Linked DNA regions of Homo sapiens. The protein of the gene in region 1 interacts with the protein of each later gene in a pairwise test. Each region holds a gene or a part of one and is shown in the gene's direction. Other genes may lie near its edges.

Evidence for each region. The genes of interacting proteins can lie anywhere in the genome.
Region 2: the proteins of COL3A1 (region 1) and LOX interact in a two-hybrid assay, tested with the Homo sapiens proteins (one study listed by IntAct).

The regions. Positions count from the first base shown.
Region 1 is NC_000002.12:188,977,362-188,984,441, forward strand, and holds part of COL3A1 (collagen alpha-1(III) chain preproprotein), read left to right. Parts: intron 1-730; exon of another isoform or gene 731-800; intron 801-7,080. UniProt on the Homo sapiens protein: Collagen type III occurs in most soft connective tissues along with type I collagen. Involved in regulation of cortical development.
Region 2 is NC_000005.10:122,075,260-122,083,242, reverse strand, and holds the start of LOX (protein-lysine 6-oxidase isoform 1 preproprotein), read left to right. Parts: upstream 1-4,983; 5' UTR 4,984-5,257; coding exon 5,258-5,888; exon of another isoform or gene 5,889-6,241; coding exon 6,242-6,350; exon of another isoform or gene 6,351-7,701; coding exon 7,702-7,839; exon of another isoform or gene 7,840-7,917; coding exon of another isoform or gene 7,918-7,928; intron 7,929-7,983. UniProt on the Homo sapiens protein: Responsible for the post-translational oxidative deamination of peptidyl lysine residues in precursors to fibrous collagen and elastin. Regulator of Ras expression. May play a role in tumor suppression. Plays a role in the aortic wall architecture.

The DNA.
Region 1 (7,080 bases):
ATTTTAAAACTGTAAATGGACTCAGAGAATCAGTTTCTTATTAGACGTCATGAGAGTATATTTTTTTCATTATGCTTTAAGAGGGAATTTGTAACTTGCTCAGGTAACATTCAAGTTTTCTGGTTTGTGTTTGTCCCTACAATTAAACACACTGAACTAACAGGAAAAGGTTACATACATTTAGGAACAATTGCACTTTTAAAGGGAGAGAATGCATAGTTGCTCACATATCTCAGTGTCAGTCACCTAACATGGATCAGTGCTTTATTTGAGATTACAAAACTAGAAAATGACGGAGTCAAGGCTAGGACCAATATTCTGTTCAGTCTTAGATAATTATAGAATACACATTAAAATCAGATATTTGAATTTTCTTAATTTTGTAACTATTTGTCATTGAAAGGAGATACTAAAAAAATTATATATCGTCCTAGAAAGTACATGAACTAATAATGCATTTCTAAAGGTGAAAAAAGAATAGGTATTTTTCTGTTTAATATTCAATTTTATAGAGAGTAGTACGTTAATTTTTTTAAACCCCAGAAGCTCAGGATCTTATCATTTTAAAAGAAATTATCACCAGTTCTGTGTGAGTAAATAAAGTATTATAACACTTTGTGTTTTTCATCCATGATACCTTGTATTTACTTACCTGAGCTTTTTTTCTAGGGAAAGAAAAATGCTCAGGTAATAACAGAGCCTTGAAAAATTTGGATTTTCAAAACTACCTATTTATGTATAGGCCTTTAGATCATCTGATGTTGAATACTCTTTAAGTGATCTAAAGGCCTACATATAAAAAGGTATTTTTATTAAATTCTGGAATTAAACATTTCAGCATTACAAGAAAAGAAAGCAAATCCACTGGAACAATTCTGGGAAAGAAGGAAAGACTGTGATTAAATGCCTCTTAACTACTTCAGATTCCTGGATTGATGTCTTATCTACAGGCTTCTTTTTAAAAATCAAGAATGATTGGCTGTGAGTTTACCAGGATTATAGTTGAGGCTAAAGGACAGCTCCTCAGGAAAGCCCCTGTTCTACATCTACGGTCACATGCTGGACCTTGAGTTGTCACTCAGAGAAAAGAGTGCCATCTACCGAAACTCCACAGTTTCCATTGTGAATGGCTTCTTTGGTGCAGAGTTCCAAAAATTATGTAGCCCAGCTCTTTAATTTTGTAACATCTAATGATATCACCGCCTTGAAGTGATTAAAGTAGATTGCTTAAAGAATTAAAGCTTTAAAGATGAAAGATGTTATTGCTTTTGCTGGACATGAGGAACAGTTGTAAAGTTTCCAGGTCTACAATAACTTTCTGGAACCCTCTCAGTGAACTGTTTCTTGTAAAAGTTTTCCCTAAGATAAAAGCTCAATCCCATTGTTTCCACACTCAAAAAAAAAAAAAAAAAAAAGATCATATAGTGTAAAAAAAAACTCTCCAGACTTTTCAAAGGGGAAACTTTGCCTGTTTCATGTCAAGATGACAACGGAAAAAATGAGATAGCTATTCTTACATAAATCATTTGTGAACTGCAGTTGGGGGAGTTACATTAACCACCAGAGTTTCAGTCTGTGTCTAATGAAAACACAGCAGAAGTGGATTCCTTTCAGATTAACTAATAAAACCCTTGTTTTTTTCCATGACTGAGGTCAAGCACTGCTGTTTAAAATGTAGTCTTAATGAACAAAATGAAACGTTGAAAGAGGACGAGTCAAAATGCCCAAAAGATGTAAACATCAAAGAGAAAAGATCCAGAAATTATTAAAAGTTAAACTTCCCTTGAATTCTAGTATTAAGAAAGTACTGCTTCAGTAAAATGGCATATATTTTTCTGAAACTGTTTTTCTATAGTATTTTGTGTGGAGGATGACAGAGACTGCATTTCTCAAGTAAATTAAAATCACAGAAATACTCTTTGGAGTTGCATAGCATGTTCACAACGTTCCAGTTTCATTCAGTGAAAACTTCTGATGAACTTAGATGTATATTAACATGAATCATTTAGTAACTATATTTTCTGAAAAACAGTGTGTTAATGAGACATCTTAAACATATTTTTGCATTGGATGCAGAAGTCTTTTCTGTCTGGTACTATTGTTGTTAGAACCCTACTTTTTTGTATATAGCAAAATGTATGCAGGGTTTCTGAGTCACACATTTATTCTGTTGGTGGTCTGGATGTCATCAGGGTAGCTTTAGAGATATAACCCTTCTTCATAAGGTCAAGAGAAAATAAACAGGAGAATTTAACTCCAGATGGCATCTTCCTGTTTTGAGGCCAGATAGAAAAATATTTTGCAAAGAACTGTTGTCCTTCAAAATATACCTATCTAGATTCAGATTTTAACCTTGCAGGGATAAAAAATCATATGGGACAGAGCTTTGGAGTTGGCTTCTTTAATCGTACTCAGTTTTGAAATAGCAGAAAGAAAATAGAATGCAGTAATTAAGAGTATCAAATTTAGAGAAAGCCTTCTTACACTCAGATCTTCTTTTTCACCCTGACTGTGTAACCTTGGGAAAATTACTTAATGTTTCTGCAGTTAAGATTCCTCATCTGTAAAATTAGGATTATGACAGCTGTAAGCTCATAAGGCCTTTGGGAGTATGAAGCAAAATAGATATTCAAACTACTCAGAGCAGTCCCTACAAGATAGGAGGTACTATAGCACTAGTTTTACTAACGCTGGCAAATAAAATTACTCTAAGGAAGAAATTAAAGTACTTAGTAACTTAGTGATAAGGATGGTGAAATGTAAAATTTTATTTATAAGACTATACAATTTAAAGTTGTTTGCCAAATGTAATAAGACAAGTAGAATATATTCTCTTCAATGTTTTTATAATTTGACACTAAGAAGATTTTATTATATATGCAATTGCTGGTGGTTAGATATATGATACTTAAAATTTTCTAATTATCTAATTATTTTTATTTTTAACAGGATAAAATATTAATCAACTTAAAGGACATTTCTAAGGAGATTGAATTCTAAAAGATTAATCTTTTAGACAATTCTAAAAGATTAATCTTTTAGACAATTCTAAAAGATTAATCTTTTAGACAATTCTAAAAGATTAATCTTTTAGACAATTCTAAAAGATTAATTGAATTCTAAAAGATTAATCAACTTAAAGGACATTTCTAAGGAGATTGAAAAAGCATATATCTATAAAATATGAAACAAGAAAATATCTACAAATGATAATTTATCAACTTTTTTTCCTGGAGGTAGCAAGAATAAATAAAATCTTATTTTCTATGCAAAACAGTGCTTTTAAATTAAAATTATTCACCTAGAATGTCTACAGATACTTTCTTCAGAGTCCTTTTTGTTAAGTAATCTAACATATTTTAAGATACTCTGATAAATACATAAGCAGCAGAAAAAATATTTTATTAAAATTTATGTTTTCCAAACAATATCATTTAAAAGGCAAACCAAACATTATTTCAATTGGAAACTATATGAATGCCAAATACCCACATGTACAAAATATTCAGCTTTCTAAAGTAATGAAAATAATTATGATAATTTATATATCATATCTGTGATTCTTAGATTTTCAGATTATACAACATCTTTTCCCAGATAAGGATTTAGTAAGAAGAGAAAAGGAAAAAACATTCACTTTTCATTCAAGCCAAATTAATTAATTTAATTAGGTGCTTTAGGGAATAATATTATTGCTCCAAAAATAGTATTAAGACAAACATAACATTCATTTTTTGTCCAAACAATATGATTTCTTCAAGTCAGCATGATTTAACATGAAGAATGGAAACAAAAAAATCACAAAATAGTAAGCTTTATGCACATCTAAAAATATAAAATTATGTTATTTGGCTTTATTTTTCTCTAAAATTCCAAAATAGAAAACTAGGAAAGAAGCAGCTAAGAGTGGTTTAAGACATGTGTTAGCTTCAATATGTTTTATATTATAGATCCCAGCAAGGAGATGATTGAGTTTAATACATTGCTTGTGTGATCACAAGTAAATTTCTTTCAGAATTGTACTTCGTAGTAAGGAACAGAAACACCAAATGACATGGGAGATGGAATTTAAAATTAATTATAAATTGGAACAGAGAGATTTAGTTTAAACAACTAAAATAATGGAAATAATTGGAAAGTCCATTACTTTTCAATAGTAGAATGAAATTATTTGCCTTTTATTTAATATTTTTGGAAAAAATTAACTTATTTTTTTAACCGAAGCTACTCTGAATGCAGATATCTAAGAAATGAAGAGAATAATATGAGATGACTTACTTCTAAATCCCATTTTCTATTCTATTTCTAAATGTTGCAAATGGCTAACTAGAGCATTTTTATTCCTCTAGAAACAAAACATTCTTTTCCTTGACTTTGCCATGATTTTCGCACATATTACTAGGTATTAAATGAAGGTCCATGAAACATCAATCTAAGAGCTTTAACTTTCAGTAGAATATATTGCTAACTATATTTTGTCATGCATGGAATAATAAAGGAAGCTATACAAAACTATTTTTTTCAGCAAAGGTAACTAAGGTAGAAAAACAGAGAAAGGGCTAATTTTCAGCCACAAGTTTTTACAGGAACTGACTTCTCAGGAGAGCCAAATTTATTTCAAGTGGATGTGAAATAAGTTATGGCAATAAATAAAGTTGCATTAATTCTTATTTTTTAAACATTCCAACTCTCTTTTTTTTACTTAAAACAATATGACTTTCTAAAGTAAAACAAAACATACATGCACCATGTTGACTGTCATGTGCAGGTGAGAAGAGAAAAATATTTTAAGAATATGATAATTTTTAAAATTGCACTAAAATAATCTTTATATTGAGGCCTCCGTGTTTTAAAAAGTACTATAATATGTTTCTAATAAAATTTAGAAACAATAAGCTAAATAACAACGTTAATACTTATAACATTGCATTTGACCCAATTTTAACAAACTCATTTACAATTTTAATAAGTCAATATTGTGCTCATTTATTTAATAATTAGCAGAACAAATGGAAAGTACTGTATTTCTAATGATGTGAGGACACCCTTAATGAGACATAAACATAGGAGGATGAATACACAGGAGGGAAAAGTATTTATGTTAATTTCTAGGCAGATCAAGAACATATAGAAGATACTTAAAATAGGAAATGTTTGAGCCTAGCTTTAACTATTATCTTCATTTGTCTTTAATATGCCTTTAGTATTCAATGGCTGTTTTTCATAATCCACGTGCTGTATTAAGTGTGAAAAGATATGCCTGATCCAGAGGCAATGAGCTAAAAGAATCATCTGTACAATCTAACAATGCTTTTGAGGATGGATCTGGAGGGCTTAAAATACACATTATTAATGGGAAAATCTTGGGCTGAAACTAATCTGTAGGAATATTTCATATAAAGTTGATTTGGAGAAAATTTTTAAGTGGTTCATTTTGAGAAAAGGAACCAATGTAATTACAGTGTTCCATGTAATTTTACTGCACAATCTTCCAAACCCAAATTTTCGGACCTTTTCTGCAGACTGGTGAACTTAGTACTTAAATATGAAACGCCAGTTCTGTCTAGAGAACAAAATGAGTTTAATGCATAGACTCACCTGTTATTACTCTTCACACCAATGTGTAAATGACTGTTTGCTCTTCTATTAAATATATTTTCCGTAACACCATTCAAATAGGCCTACTTCATTTCCACTGAGATAAGCATTTTGGTATTCAGCTTTTATATTCACTAAGAATTAAGAAATGCTGTTTTAAAAGCTTAGGAAATGTATATAGAAAATATATCCCATGTTCTCATATATGTGTTTCAGACATAGGGGAGGAATTAGAATAAATTTTCTAAATAAACAAATTATTTGCCTACTTAAAATTGCAATTAAAAAATGAAGCTTTCCTTCGTTAGCTGTAAACTACATTGAGAAATTGTAACATAAAAAAGAATGGATTTTTAAAACTTCTTGAGTAGATCAAGTGTCTTGTACAATATCATTAAATTTGTATCAGAACACATAAATGGAAATGAGGTGGGGAAGCAATTGCAGTACTTTCTAGAGTCTAGGTTTTGAAATTCTTTTTGGTGAACATTTACTAAATCAGCTAAACATTTCAACTCATTTAAACACAAACCTAAATTATTATTACCCTAGACAGAGAGATGATATAGCAACGGGACCTCGAAAAGGTGATCTTTTGTGGCTGCATGTAGTGCCCAGATGGAAAAATCTTAGGACCACTAAAAGGCCTCTTGACCACTAGGCGGCAAAAACTAATTTTGAACTACTTGCCTACTCGGTAGCAGGCCTCTTTCAATAGACATTTTAAATATCTTGGCTTTGAGAAAATAAAAATTTCACCATCTCACAAAAATATAAATTACTGAACAGTACATCATTTGTTGTTTGCAAAAATTTTTGCAGATGCTTAGAAACTTATTATTTATTTACTCAATTACTGGCAAACTATCATACTAATTGTCAAGAACTAAAGTTGTATTTAACCACAATACACAGCTAATGCCTTAAGAATTGAGACCAGGTTTTGTTTTGGCAATTCCTAAGCTGATTCATAGTTAATAGCTGCTGAAATTTCAGTACCTTGTATATAATTATGAAGCAAGTCTAAAATTTTGGTTGAAGCAATTTTTTTTACCATTTTAAGCCACAAATACAGATGGTTATGATTCATATTTTCCCTATTATTTTTACTTATTCCTTGCCAATGTTTATTTTAAAAACATCTTTTTCTTTTCTTTTTGGTGATTTGGAAATGTCTTTACATCCATATGGGATATACAATATATTATGTCATATCATGTTGAGCTACTAATGCCAAATAGAGCTAACAGTGACATTCAATACACATAATAAGTTCTGTTAAAACTTTCCCAGGAAAATCTGGTAGAGTTTTATGCTGCCAAGATTAGCTCAGTTTTCCCCTGAATTTCTCAACTAGGTTGATAAAATCCAGAAAGTCTTCAGAGTTAGTGACAAAATCATCTCTTTAGTTTAATGCTCCCATCTGCTGTTAAGGCAAAGAATAGCAATTGGGTAGAAGAGCTTATTTTCAATGTTCCTTTA
Region 2 (7,983 bases), on another chromosome or scaffold:
ACGTTGCCATTTTGCCATTGGACTGTCTATTGGGACCAATTAAATCATGTGGACTTTACTTGTAAGCAATTTTGCCAATTGGCTGAACCCTTTTTTTTTTTTTTTTTTTTTTTTTTGAGACGGAGTCTGGCTCTGTCACCCAGGCTGGAGTGCAGTGGCGCAATCTCGGCTCACTGCAAGCTTCGCCTCCCGGTGAACCCTTATTTTTATTGTTAATAGAACTAATTACTTTGAACTCTGATCCCCTGTACTTCAAAGACCCATTCTCCTATCATATCACCTCTTCTCATTTTCCCATTTTGTTTCAGTAACTAACATTCTTTACTTCATCACACGTGAACATGCATTAAGGACACCAGAATGAAATACTTTTCTATTCCTTAGAGTTAAACTCCACTTTTCCATTCCTTAGGTGGCCCAAAGGAATGGGTAACCAAGCCAGATACATTTAAAAGTTATTATTTCTGGAATTCTTCTACTCAGTTTGTTTATACTTTTTTTTTTTCAGTTTGGTCTTGACACACAGACAAGTGTGTACCCAACTGTCTACTTTTTATATTTGGGTGAATACCTGGAAGTGGTATGTGGCAGAAGGCTAGGATAAGTAGTAGAAGGGAACACAAGCACACTGTTAACTTTAAGGCTAACTTACTCCTCTCCTCCATTTCACTCCAAGTAAAAAGATTTCTAGTTCTGTATTTCACTCTGTTACATTTCTTAATTACTTTTTAAGTATCCTCAATGTCCTAATTCAACACTCAGAGTGTATTCTCCTTTGTGTTATATGGTATTCTGTTTTCTCAATCATTTTCCCCTTACACATCTCCAACTTTCCACTTTTTAAATTTTATTCTCTGTGCTGTTTTGTTTTCAAACCACATGGAACCAAAGCACATACAACCATTACTCTTTACCAAAAAACAAGCTTTGTATGAGCTTCTTGAGCCTCAAACAAAAGAATTTACACTTGAACCTGATTGCTTTGAATGTGGCATTACTGTTCTGGCTTCTGCAATTCAGAGGCCCTGCTTTATGGTTTCGGCTTTCTGTTTTCCATTTATGTGAAATGTCCTACAAAAATAAATGTATTTAACAAATACCAGGAACATAGCATTACAACAACTTTCATTTCTTGGCCAATGGGCCAGACATTGCCATTTAAAGATTTGATATTGATGGGCTAGAAACTCAAAAAAAGAATTAGCAACATTCCTTCCCTTCTCTTATGGCACATACTGCAGAATTGTTCACGAGAAGAAAATCTCATGGTCAAAAGTGAAATCAGCTGTGGATCTTATCAAAGCAAAAAAAGCTGTTTGTATCTTGATGTAGCCGTGGCTTATTATTATTATTGTCATCATCATTATCATCTCAGATTTGAGTGGAAAGGAACTATGGTTTCTCCAATTTTGTGAATAATAGTTTTGTTATTGAACAGGGAACACAATGTGTGGCTAGATTATCTCCCGCAGGGCTTGCAAACACTGTATTGTCCCCAAATGTGGTAGCCACATGTTTGTTTTTCAGCTGACAGAGTCCTAAGCCAGAGAGATTTTAGAGGAAATGAAGGAGAGTGAAAATCAACTAAGCTTTTCATTAGCATGTGTGACAAAGGGTAGTGTGTTTTTCTCTTTTGGTAGTGTGTACATGTTTTAAGAAAATAAATATTGCACATCATTACTGCTCTAGTCAGTTATTTATACTCTGATAAGAATTTTAAAGTCTGTTGGAGCAAATCTGGAAAAAAGGATCAACTTCATTCAGCTCTAAACTTTTAGTGCTCACGTGTGCAAGTCACCATTATGGTATACTACACTTCGGAACATATATATGTGTTCAAGAAATGTTTGTAAAACAAATAAATATGTATTGACTTTCACTATTGGAAAATATGTAGAATAAGAAAATTGCAGTCTGCAGATTCTAACTCACACAAAATGCATCCAATGTTTTAAACTCCAACTAAAAAAATTTGATTAAATATTAATAATCATAATGAACACATTATTATCAATGAATCGAAAGTAATTGGAATAACTTGAATATTCACAAAAATCAGAGATTTTAAAACTAGGAAAAATACTTTAGAAAGAATTTGGTTAATCCTTGAATCCTAAATATAACAAAAGCCAGAGATAGTAAACAAACTGTCCAAAGAGACACAGCTTTTTTTTTTTTTATTGGAGCACTAGGATTGGAAACAGGGCATTTTATCTGGGATCCAGTGTAAACTTTCTACCCTCCCATTAGGGGTGCTGCTTTGGTCTGCCATTCTGACACTATGTCTGGCATAGCAGAGGTCTTCCCTCAGGAACCTGTGGTCAAGTAATAGCAGTTTCAGACTTCTCTAGTCTAGGGAATAAGCTGTTCATGGGCACATGCAGAGCCTTTTTCAGATGAGGGATAATTACATTCTTTCGTTTCCTGCTTCTCCTGTAATTTGGCCTGTCCATTGAAATTATAATCTATACACCTGTTTCTTCTTTTTCACTCCATCTTTCTTAGTGGGTTTGGAGGAGTTGAGTAGTTTAATTTTAAGCACTGCAGCAAGTCTGTAAAATGACAGCTAGGGATGTCTCTGACCCTTATAGGGAGAGTGAGATGTCACTGTTGACTTGCCATCAGTGGGAATTGCATTTGAATGTTCATCTTCAAGTGCAAATTATCATGTAAGTAATAGATTTGCCAACACATTGGCGAGCTTCCATGTGATATTTCCCTGTGACCAAGGATGCTGTGCAGTCATGGGCAGGGGAAATCTAACTTGACTCAAACTGAACCAAACCCATCACCCTGAACTGAGAATAATGTGAACTGATTAGGTGACAGAAGCAGCCACACCCTGCTCAGTGTCAGTCAGCCTTCTTAGGTGGAAAACAACAGAAATTGACTCTGACCATGTTCAGTCACAAAGGAATGTATGGGGGGGATGGGGGGGTGGGTCGGGGAGTAAGAAAGAAAGAAGGAAATGCTGAAGAACCAGGTCTTAGAATGTACTCACCTAAAGTAGCTTGGGTGACGGGGCAGGGGACGGATCCATGTAGCAAGACATAATGGGCACTTTTTCATTTGTTTGTTTGTTTTTTAGATGGAGTCTCACTCTGTTGCCCAAGTTGGAGTGCAGTGGTGGATCTCCGCTCACTGTAACCTCTGCCTCCTGGGCTTAAGGAATTCTCCGGGCTCAAGCAATTCTCCAGCCTCAGCCTCCAGAGTAGTTTGGGATTACAGACATGTGCCACCATGCCCAGCTAATTTTTTGTTTGTTTGTTTGTTTGTTTGTATTTTTAGTAGAGATGGGGTTTTGCCATGTTGGCCAGGCTGGTCTCGAACTCCTGACCTCGAATGATAATGATCCGCCCGCCTTGGCCTCCCAAAGTGCTAGGATTACAGGTGTGAGCCACTGCGCCAGGCCTGGGCACTTTCTTTAGTAGTTTGAGGAGCAACATTTTTGACAGTGTCCTTCTGCTCAAGATTCAGATCCCAGATAAAATTAAACCATCTAGAGAGATGGCTTGATTGGCCAAACCTGGATCTCATGACCACTTCTTGAAGTGGGTAAGTCTCATAAATGCTCAGTCCTTCCACTATGCAACTGAGTGGGGTGGGTGGGAAGCCCCTCAAAGGAAAATCCGGTTGTTCTTACTAGAAAGAAAAGGAAAATGGATGTGAGGCAGTCAAAATCAGCAGAGGTCCACCACACCACCAAAATGTGGTGATTAAATATGGAGAGACAGAGACTAACAGAGGTATGTGAATATTGAAGTATGTCTGGACAATAGCCCAATGATGAGACCAATAAAATGGTTACCAAAATCTGGTTTTGAGTAGTAGTGTTAAATCAGACCATTTAGTAACCATTTTTTGTTGCAAAGTTTCTAGCACTGCCCAAACCCTGAGTGGTATATGAATAACTCGTCCATTATGTATCTCTTTCCAGTCAGCATAATTTATCCCCCACCTATATTCTTTTCTGACCACTCCTACTTCCTTCTCTTTACCAAAATCTAAACTCTAAGGCTGTTTCTTCAGCAACTTCTTTGTTTAGATTGGAAGATAAATTAAACAGCATGCGATGTTTTACTGACTTTCAGTATTTAACAGAGGTGATTTAATTTTTTTTTAAATCCAAAGTCAAACTTCTTTATAAGATGAAGGAGAAAAATGTCTTATAAAATGCATATGTGAAGATGCCTTCTGAGTGCTTTCTCATGCAGACTTGTTCTAGTCTTTAATGAATCTTCCTTGTAGACACTGTGGAGATGAAAGATGGTTCTCCACTTCTACTCAAAGTACAAATCAGGCCGGCATTTTGAAAAAGAGACAGGTTTATTCATAGCTGCAGCGTTAGCTGGCTTTGTTCCCTGTACAATTTCACTTTTGGTTATTAAAATATTCACTGTAGGAAATAAATTTGTAACCCATTTCTCATATTACCTACACACAGAAAAACAAAATTTGATATCCTGGGGTTTATTTGCTGAGGGCGCTTCCCATAAAAGCGAGAGAGTGTGCGTTGGGAAATGTGTCTGGTTAACTCTTTTATGGATAAACTTTAGTCACAATCCTCCCCCGCCCCCCTCTCACCCCCAGCACCCTCCCAACCTCCCGACTTCCCGCCTCTCAAGGGCTGGTGACCTAATAGCATTTTTCTTCGTGCATATTTTGGCGTCGCCCCATGGCCTGGCTGCCTTCGCCTGTCTGAGTTTTTTGAAATTCCTGCATGTTCGCCCCAGATTAAGCCAGTGTGTCTCAGGATGTGTGTTCCGTTTTGTTCTTTCCCCTTAACGCTCCCTGTGCAACGTGTCTGGGGGGAGGAGGGCAGGGACGGGAGAGAGGGAGGGGCAGAGGCGAGGAGCTGTCCGCCTTGCACGTTTCCAATCGCATTACGTGAACAAATAGCTGAGGGGCGGCCGGGCCAGAACGGCTTGTGTAACTTTGCAAACGTGCCAGAAAGTTTAAAATCTCTCCTCCTTCCTTCACTCCAGACACTGCCCGCTCTCCGGGACTGCCGCGCCGCTCCCCGTTGCCTTCCAGGACTGAGAAAGGGGAAAGGGAAGGGTGCCACGTCCGAGCAGCCGCCTTGACTGGGGAAGGGTCTGAATCCCACCCTTGGCATTGCTTGGTGGAGACTGAGATACCCGTGCTCCGCTCGCCTCCTTGGTTGAAGATTTCTCCTTCCCTCACGTGATTTGAGCCCCGTTTTTATTTTCTGTGAGCCACGTCCTCCTCGAGCGGGGTCAATCTGGCAAAAGGAGTGATGCGCTTCGCCTGGACCGTGCTCCTGCTCGGGCCTTTGCAGCTCTGCGCGCTAGTGCACTGCGCCCCTCCCGCCGCCGGCCAACAGCAGCCCCCGCGCGAGCCGCCGGCGGCTCCGGGCGCCTGGCGCCAGCAGATCCAATGGGAGAACAACGGGCAGGTGTTCAGCTTGCTGAGCCTGGGCTCACAGTACCAGCCTCAGCGCCGCCGGGACCCGGGCGCCGCCGTCCCTGGTGCAGCCAACGCCTCCGCCCAGCAGCCCCGCACTCCGATCCTGCTGATCCGCGACAACCGCACCGCCGCGGCGCGAACGCGGACGGCCGGCTCATCTGGAGTCACCGCTGGCCGCCCCAGGCCCACCGCCCGTCACTGGTTCCAAGCTGGCTACTCGACATCTAGAGCCCGCGAAGCTGGCGCCTCGCGCGCGGAGAACCAGACAGCGCCGGGAGAAGTTCCTGCGCTCAGTAACCTGCGGCCGCCCAGCCGCGTGGACGGCATGGTGGGCGACGACCCTTACAACCCCTACAAGTACTCTGACGACAACCCTTATTACAACTACTACGATACTTATGAAAGGCCCAGACCTGGGGGCAGGTACCGGCCCGGATACGGCACTGGCTACTTCCAGTACGGTAAGTACCCCCAAGTCCGCTGGAAGCACCCGTGCACCTGGTCCCCAGCTATGTGGCTTCTCGACGTGGCTGCCTGGGCGCGGCGGGCCCCGGTCCTCGCAGATCCGATCCCTCCCCCACGCGCCTGCAGTGGCAGCCCTGGAATCCAGTGCAAACCGCGCGTCTGGCCCCTCCTGCTTCCTTTTCACATTGCTTTGCAGTCCCGGGCGTCCCCAGTTCTCTTGCTGTCCTCCGCTCCACTCTGCAGTCCCGGTGGGCGAAGGGTGAGGAGTAAGGGACCTAGAGGGGTAGGGAGTTGGAGCGGGGGGCGCCGGGTTGTTTCACTGCTGCGCCCGTCGCCTGCTGACGTTTAGGTCTCCCAGACCTGGTGGCCGACCCCTACTACATCCAGGCGTCCACGTACGTGCAGAAGATGTCCATGTACAACCTGAGATGCGCGGCGGAGGAAAACTGTCTGGCCAGGTACGGGCTGATATGTCTGAGGCCCCGCTCCCCGGTCTACCTTCAGGGGGCGCTCTGGTGCCTGGTTCTGACTGCTACTGCTTCGCGCAGACAAGTGTTAGGAAGTGGGACAAGAGCTGGGAAGTGGGACGTGACCTCCTGGGCATGCTGACCTGGACGGAGAGTTAATATTTTTGAAGATTTCTGTGGGTTCTGTCTCAAAGTGCAGCAGGAATCACAGAGGTGGAGGAAACCCTTATCCTGGAGACTGAAAGTCTCATGCTCTTTTTCCAAGATACTTAAACTTGGGAGTCAATTGTTCCAATCACTTTTCATAAAACAACTATACAGTAATTCAAAAAATTTATTGTAATGGAAGGGTGTGTTAATACCCCCTTAAAAGATTCGGGGCAAATTTGCCATCGTAGCCTCATTGGTAAAGACTAAGTTTTCCTCTTTTGTTTGAGACCACGATGAACTTGGTTGTTTTGGTATTACTTCAGCCAGAATAAGACCGTGAGCAAGAGCTTTGTTTTTCCACTATTCTAAAATAAAATAGTAACTCTGGGATTGGGGTTCTCTGGGTTTACTGCTGGGAAACAGCAGAGGGAGCAAAAGATGTTTTAATAAAAATTTAAAGTGTAAAATAAGGTCATCAATACCACCTGAACATATAGACACACTAAATATATTAGTAGGAACACAGTGATGTTTATTTGTACATTTCTTCCACTTTGACCCTTTATAATTGTCAGGCTAAAGGAAGTGAAGAAATCCAAGCTCATTTTCATTCCTGAGTCTTGCATCACTCACACCATTGAACTCCCTATGATGTTTTTACAGTACTGCCATTGTTTTGGGATAGTGAAGTTACAAAATTATTAATTTAAATCTGGGTATGCTCTTTTAGAGTTATTTCCTCAGTTTGCAGCTCATTAACTTTTTTAAAAGTTTTGTTAAGTTTGAAGTTTGTAATAAACATCTATGAATTATTTTTTTTATTGGGGGATTATTTCCACTTCAGTTTCACTCATTCATATGATCAAACTTGAATTGATTCTAAAGTTTACTTCTGACATTTAGATTTTTAATGCTTATTATGTTTTTACTGTTAAGATCTGTGGATTTCCATAGGTGTTATTCATTCACTTATTCACCAAATATTCATTGAGCTCTGACTACTCCAAGACGGTTCTAGGAGCTTTGGATTCAGCAATGAACAAAAAGAAACAAAATGCCTTAGACTCTTGGAACTGATAGTCTAGTTGGGAAAGGAGGATTGTCACTACTATATAATGGATGTTTTATTTGTAGTTTTGTCTTTAGTTAATATTCCATGAATATAATAATTTTTCTTTTTTCAAAATCACAGTACAGCATACAGGGCAGATGTCAGAGATTATGATCACAGGGTGCTGCTCAGATTTCCCCAAAGAGTGAAAAACCAAGGGACATCAGATTTCTTACCCAGCCGACCAAGATATTCCTGGGAATGGCACAGTTGTCATCAGTAAGTAAATGGGCCTCCTGGGTACTTTTGGGTTGCTTTTCATTTCTCAGGTGATTTTTGATATCACAAATGCAAGTCTTATTTCTTACCTGAAGGGAGAAAATTGCTATTACTTATATTTAGAATTTTTCTCTATGTAATTTC